2 linked regions of the Homo sapiens genome follow. The protein of the gene in region 1 interacts with the protein of each later gene in a pairwise test. Each region holds a gene or a part of one and is shown on either strand. Other genes may lie near its edges.

Region 1 (3,655 bases):
CCTCATTTTTCAACATAGACACTTCATTCTAAAAGAGATATGTATTAAAACCATGTTGAGAAGACCAGAGGATACAAACCCACAGCCCTGTGCACTTTCAACAACAAAACTGGCAAACTCTTCCATTATGTCTAAATGACATTAAGAATATTATTTAATGTGGTTCACCTGAAAGTTTGTAGCTTACCTTTAATTTGGCCCTCACATTTCCCAGGGGCTTTCTGCAGAGCTTAGGTTTTAACTCAAGAGCTGAACCTTATTAAAAGGCTAGACCACACCCTTAGGTGATGGGAACCGAAGCCAGGTGAGAATCCTTACTCCACACTGACTGTGTGACCCTAGGTAGATTACATAACCCAGCTGAGCTCCAGCAACCTCGTTATAAGATGGGGATAAGAAGAGTACATTATTTGTGTTACTATGAGGATTAAATACAGTAATAGATGGGAAACAGAACAATACCCAGCACATAATAAGGACTTAATACATTTAACTATTGTAACCTTCACAAGCTCAGGTTTACATCCAATTGAGAATGTGAATATGAGGCGCACATTGGGCAGAATTATGTGGTAGGATTTGTGGCTTCCACCTGAAATGCAATCAGAATAAGCTGACTCATCTACCATCAGATTTTCCAAAAGAAGTCTGTGTTGCTCAATCTAAAAAGAATATCTGAAAATAAATTGACCTTCAGTCATGAATCCCTGCTCTCCCCACCATCTCCTACTCAATTACTGTTCATGGGATACTGTTGAGCAGAGCACATCTACCTGCCTGATGCCCACTGAGCAGGAGGTATGGAAGCATACAGTACACATGTTGGTCAGCTGCAGGTGGATGATGTCAGCTCAGGGTGGCAAGGAGGCAATGAAGTTTTGGGCCATGATTGAATTAATTTGATTGAGTTCATTGATTATTTGGTCAATTTCGGTCTATAAAATACTCTTTCCCCCCTCAATATCAGGATATTGTGGATGGTGTGGGGTTTTCTTCTTATTTACTCATGTAAGTGCCTCGGATCTCTACTTTATCTGTTAATATTAATTCACAAAGGCATGCTCATAGCTTTGTAGAATAATGAACTTGGCACCCATTGTCTACAAATATAAACATAAAATAGATGGTAGCTCCGAGATGCTTCCACTTGATAAAAGTGAACGTAAATGTAGCACTATCTTGAATAAGCCACTTAAAAATTGTGATCAATAATATCCTCTCTTTGGTCAAGGTTTATTTGTGGCTGCCAGGCATTATACCTCACATGTAGGAGACTTAAAAAATGCATGCACACCGAAAAGGACGATTAACATTGCTGTCATTAAGTTGTACCTACACTTTCAATATGAACTTGGCTTTTCAGCCATGTATTTATCACCTAGGAAAGTATGTTTGGGATTCTAGAAGTTGCGCTAAAAAAAATTGAAATCTGTTTTAAGGAATATCTCCCATTTCTAAATTTCTTGGTGAAATAAATTATAAGCAACCACATATTGAGTAACATTAATAACAAAAATAATAAAATAAAACAATGACAAAATAATAAAAATCTCATCTACAAATCTCATCTCATTCCCTTTCTCTTCCAAACTTTATTTTTACAAAATAAAAATGACTATTTGGGAAATTAGCCTTAATGATGAATAAATCACTTAATCAAACAAGAAAATTGCTCTTACATCTCAGAACATACAAGAAGGCAAATTGTACCTCCCAACTCCAAATGAATGTGATTGATAAGGGGCTCTGTGGAAACCAAAAGTGACCCTGTCAATTCCAAGGTCAGTGGGATAACTTACAGGACAATTTATTTTAGCCTTAAACACTAACTTCTTCCTCTTTGACTTTACACCTATCTAAATTCAGATGGCCTTCCTTCTTTTTCTCAGTTCTCCTTCTGCTCAAAATAGCACATATAAAAGAAAGTCACTTCTAGACCATCAAATGAAGGCAATCTCTGGTTAAAAAAAAACAACCAAACAAAAACCAAGAAAGGAAACAGAGATGTGTTTATGTGTGTGTGTGTGTGTGTGTGTGTGTGTGCGTATATATTTGCTTCAGAAGGAAATGTCATATTATTTGCATTTAGACTACAGAAATAACACTTTTCTGAAATCGAAACTGCTAGACACCTTGCCCCCTGAGTAGAAGCTCTCAGCTGCAGATAATGTAGACAATGGATCTTAGAAAATGGAATCAAGTTCTAATTTCTAGTGAATCCACACTTTTCTACCTAGAAAACAAACAAGAAAAGTATTAAAAACAAAACTGGGTTCTCTTGCTTTCTTATACTTTTGGAAGAAAAAACACCCCTGCCTGTGGCCATCTTGGAGAGGTTGAATTTAGTCTCCATTTCTTCCCCCACTATGTCCTGGGCAATGAAACCCTTTCTTGGCAGCATTCGATCTCCCAGGCACAAAGTGTTCATTGCCCCTTCCCTAAGAAAACACTCAATTCTATTCTCTGGGTTTCTACAGTTAGCAAAGAGCTAACTGCCTATGATATTTGGCATGCCCCAAACAGTTTCACAATAAATTTTTGCTTTCATAAGTCTGTTTTACTATAAAAAGAGCACTAGTCAGCACATGTGGTGCCCTGGCCTATCACCAAAACCCCATACAAAGTATATGACTTTGGTGGCATTTAGTCTATGAACAGCAAAACACTTTATTAATAAAGCAATATGTTGTAAGTACAGAGACCAAAGGCCTGAGTGTTGTGAGGATCTGTAAAAATGCAGAACCCTGAGAATATTGAGACAACTGACCATCATTTAAAGATATATGTGAATATGAACATATTCTTTTTTTCTTTTTTATTGTTATAGAGACAGGGTCTTGCTATGTCGTCCAGGCTGGACTACAGTGGCACCATCATAGTTCACTGCAGCCTCTACCTCCTGGGCTCAAGCAATCCTCCCACCTCAGCCTTCTGAGTAGCAGGGACTAGAGACATGTGCCACAATGCCCACCTAATTTTAAAAAATGTTTTGCAAAGATGGGGTGTAGCTATTTTGCCCAGGCTGCTCTTGAACTCCTGGCCTCAAGTGATTCTCCAGCCTCAGCCTCCCCAAGTGCTGGGATTACAGGCATGAGCCACTGTGCCTGGCAGGACATATTTCTTAATGTAACATGTTAATACTTATTTAGCCATGTTATTGTGGGAAAATGAACACCAATTAATGTCCTCAGTAGAGAAGGGCAATCAGCTTCTTGTTTATCCATATACATATAACTATGATGCTGCAAGGACTAAATAAAGGCCTAATAACCACATAAGCCATAGAAATTCATGGGGCAGCATCCAGTAGGAAAAGGAACTCTCACTTGAGAGTTGAGAATAATAGGGTTTGAGTTCCCAAGCTGCCATGCCAACCAAGTATAAAACACGATGGTTGAACTACTTCCAGAAAGTTCCTTCCAGAAAGAATTTTTTTTTATTCTACAAGCAATTCTGTGTCACCTTCTATTGAGAAAGCAAATTACCCAATTATCCAATGAAAGAGTCCATCTTGACTTTTATTCATTACTTAGCTACTTTCAATATGCTCAAATATGCTTATAATTCAGGTCTTATCTTTCATAAGGGAGCCAGTTCTAGCACCTCTTATGCTTCTAAATCTTAGTAGGGCAGATTCCAAAGCAACATTTATAGT
Region 2 (3,655 bases), on another chromosome or scaffold:
GGGGAGAAAGTGCCAGTGGAGAGGGTACTATTCAAGATGAGAAGAAATAATTATAATTGAGTCAGGGAGATCTTAGAAGACACTTTAGGAGATGAGGTTTGGGGTTCTGGTGAAGGCTTAGCTGTGGAAATTGGGAAGTTATATATTTTCCTTTGGGGCTTGGAGACTATCTGAATAGACAGTGATCAAAATCAAGAGGAAAAGAGACCTGTGCAGCGAACTGTGATATTAAATAATCTGCAGGTTTGGAATAGATTTGGGACCCAAGGATGGTTGAACAGACGTGCAGAGACTCTGTTGGGTTATCAGTAAGGATTGGTGGGCCTTTCTGTCAGGGCAGAAGTAGCCAAGACATAGGAATGGCATATGCATTTATATTTAGGAAGACTGAAACACTATGATAATATTCATTAAACCGGTAGTCTGTCTAAATTGTGCTGAATTTAAATTTACACTACAAAATGAATAAATGGAGTATACCAAATATATTTCTTAGCAAAACATTCTCTGTTGCAATGACTTCCTCCAAATTAATTTTATTTTAGACTTTTGGCAAAGATGTTGTAACATGAACTTCTATTTAAATATATTCATTTTCATTTATTTGTATAAGCTTATTTTAAAATAAAAGCGATACCATTACCCTGCTGCATGCATGTTGATGTAGGTTTGCATTTTAACTGGCTAGATACATAAAATTTTTTATGTTTATGTGTTCTAAAGCTTGTTCAACCAAAGTCTATGATTTAAATAATAGGCACAGGAAGAAATTACCCGACTTCGACGAGAAATGATGAAAAGCTGTAAGAGTCCTAAATCAACAACGGCACATGCTATTCTCCGGCGAGTGGAGACTGAAAGAGATGTAGCCTTTACTGATTTACGAAGAATGACCACAGAACGAGATAGTCTAAGGGAGAGGCTAAAGGTTGGAAAGGATTTTATTTACGTGAATATATGTGAAACACAAATTCAGGGATATTGAAATCACTTTATTTTGTTTTTGCTTTTTAATCAGATTGCTCAAGAGACAGCATTTAATGAGAAGGCTCACCTGGAACAAAGGATAGAGGAGCTGGAGTGTACAGTTCATAATGTAAAAAAAAAAAAAAAGAAAAGTCTCTTTTGGCTATAAACACTCAATGGCTTTCCCCTTTCTCCTTTTTCTGTATTCAGAGAAGTTATTTTATTTTTCTAAGATAGTGTTTATAGTCCTAAAATACTTAAGGTATTTTATAGTGTAAATTGTCACTTTTTCATTTGTTTATTTCCTTCTAAAAATGTGAGTAAATGTTTTTTGGTGTTAGGTTGCAAAGTATGTACTTTAAAAAAATCATTAGGCATTCATTTTCAGGGATCTTATCTACTTTCTCATCTCCATATTTTGTTAAAGATAATATTGCCAGATGTAAAGAAAATGGTTTATTCTACCTAAAGAGTGGATAAGGAGAGAAAATTATGATGAAATAAAAATTATAAGCAAAGTTTATTTAAACTAAATTTAAATGTGAAACATCACCTTTTTCCTAATCAGATTTGATATTGCTACGAATATATATTGATGATATTGTCACTATATAAACATAAGAGAATTTAACTTTCTATTACCAAATATAATTGAATATATTTATAAGTTCATCTGTACTGTTTTATTGTAATGAGTTAAAAATATGAGATAGGGGCTGGGCACGGTGGCTCATGCCTGTAATCCCAGCACTTTGGGAGGCCAAGGCGGGTGGATCACCTAAGGTCAGGAGTTTGAGACCAGCCTGACCAATATGGTGAAACCCTGTCTCTACTAAAAATATGAAAATTTGCCAGGTGTGGTGGCATGCGCCTGTAGTCCCAGCTACTTGGGAGGCTGAGACAGGAGAATTGCTTGCACCCGGGAGGTGGAGATTGCAGTGAGCCGAGATCGCGCCACTGCACTTCAACCTGGGCGATGGAGCGATACTCTGTCTCAAAAAAAAAAAAAATTACTAGACAGGAGAAAATAATTTTTGTTTTCATAATTCTACATTATATGTGTAATTTATTAATGTTGGGCAACAAATAAATTCTTTTGCAAACAGCATATTTATACTATAGTCAAATTGAACCAGATTGAAAAATATAGACTGATATACTGTGATAAGCTTTACTTTGCAGTGGCTTTTCCTTGGTCCTACTTCACAACACCTTATCTGTAAAACCTTCTACAGCAGTCAGGTCTAACCTGATAATCTCATCCTGTCAGTCTTGCCATAAACCAGTTTGTACAGAGGGAGTATGCCCTTCAGGAAGATTACTAAGGTGTTTTTAGTGATGGCAGTAACCTTGTCATTCTACTTGTATAGCTTGATGATGAACGTATGGAGCAAATGTCAAATATGACTTTGATGAAGGAAACCATAAGCACTGTGGAAAAAGAAATGAAATCACTAGCAAGAAAGGCAATGGATACCGAAAGTGAACTTGGCAGACAAAAAGCAGAGAATAATTCTTTGAGGTAAACTAAATCACCTTTAAACAACCAACAGTTTACTATAACTATAGCTCTGCTTTTTATAGTGTATTTTATAATGAAAATTATTTGTTGAGTTCAGTTTCTGAGAGGATTATTGAAAAGCAGTTGTAGGAACCCTTGGCACACAGTGAACAATTTTCCTGAGCTCAATCACAGGCTGGTAATGCCACACTTAACTAGGAATCACACTTCTAGTAATCTTACTTTACATTTGTAAAAAACTTCAACTTTTAACTGAAATAGCTTTTACAAAGCTCTTCTGGGTACAGAATATATTTGACTTTGATTGTTTACCTTTATAACTTTAAATTCTGTTTGGGGATATGAACAGTATAAGAAAACACAAAGCACAGGTTTGGCAGTTGCTTAGAAAAAGGGTGATTTAGAATATAATGAAAAGCCGTAACAGAGAAATAGGAGCACGTGATGGAGCATCTATTAATTGAATGCAAGTACTATACTTAGCCTTTCCTGTGTACTGGCATGGTTGCCGAAGATGTATCAATTGAAGCAGCCTACAGCAATAAGCTTGGGAGAATGAGTTTTTGAAGACCTCTACATGAGTGGTTTTACTTTTAGTATCTGTTGCTGTGAGAAACAGAGGTTCTACAGATTCAGTAAGGTTGAATTTCATTGCATCTATGAACATTGAAAAATAGTAATAGCTTAATATCTAGGTGACGGGTTGATCTGTGCGGCAAACCACCGTGGCACATGTTTACCTGTGTAACACACCTGCATGTTCTGCACATGTACCCCGGAACTTAAGAAAGAAAAATAGTAGTTCACACTCCTATTAATGCTGAGATTACAGGCATGAGCCACCGGGCCTGGTCTTTCTTAACAATTTTTTTTTTTTTTTTTTTTAGTCATAAAACCAATTATTTAATTGAAGCTATAAAAAAGGCAGTATAAGCGATAAAATAATTAGGAAAGAATATTTAGCATGTTTCAAAACATTTAAAATAGGAGCAGAACATTTTACAAAAAGTTGTACAGGAAATTAAATTCTAAAACTGTAAGTACAAACATGACATTACAGAGTATCTTATAAAATACAAAGACAAATATAAAAGGACTATGATGCTTTAAGTCTGAAAACTATTGGCCAAATATTTAGGTTTATATTTACAGTTCTGGGTATGAGAA

Evidence for each region.
Region 2: the proteins of CREB5 (region 1) and TSGA10 interact in binary tests that used the Homo sapiens proteins (3 or more experiments, as listed by UniProt).

The regions. Positions count from the first base shown.
Region 1 is NC_000007.14:28,814,444-28,818,098, reverse strand, and holds part of CREB5 (cyclic AMP-responsive element-binding protein 5), read right to left. Parts: intron 29-3,655; coding exon 1-28. UniProt on the Homo sapiens protein: Binds to the cAMP response element and activates transcription.
Region 2 is NC_000002.12:99,102,800-99,106,454, reverse strand, and holds part of TSGA10 (testis-specific gene 10 protein), read left to right. Parts: intron 1-757; coding exon 758-928; intron 929-1,018; coding exon 1,019-1,096; intron 1,097-2,336; coding exon 2,337-2,488; intron 2,489-3,371; exon of another isoform or gene 3,372-3,655. UniProt on the Homo sapiens protein: Plays a role in spermatogenesis. When overexpressed, prevents nuclear localization of HIF1A.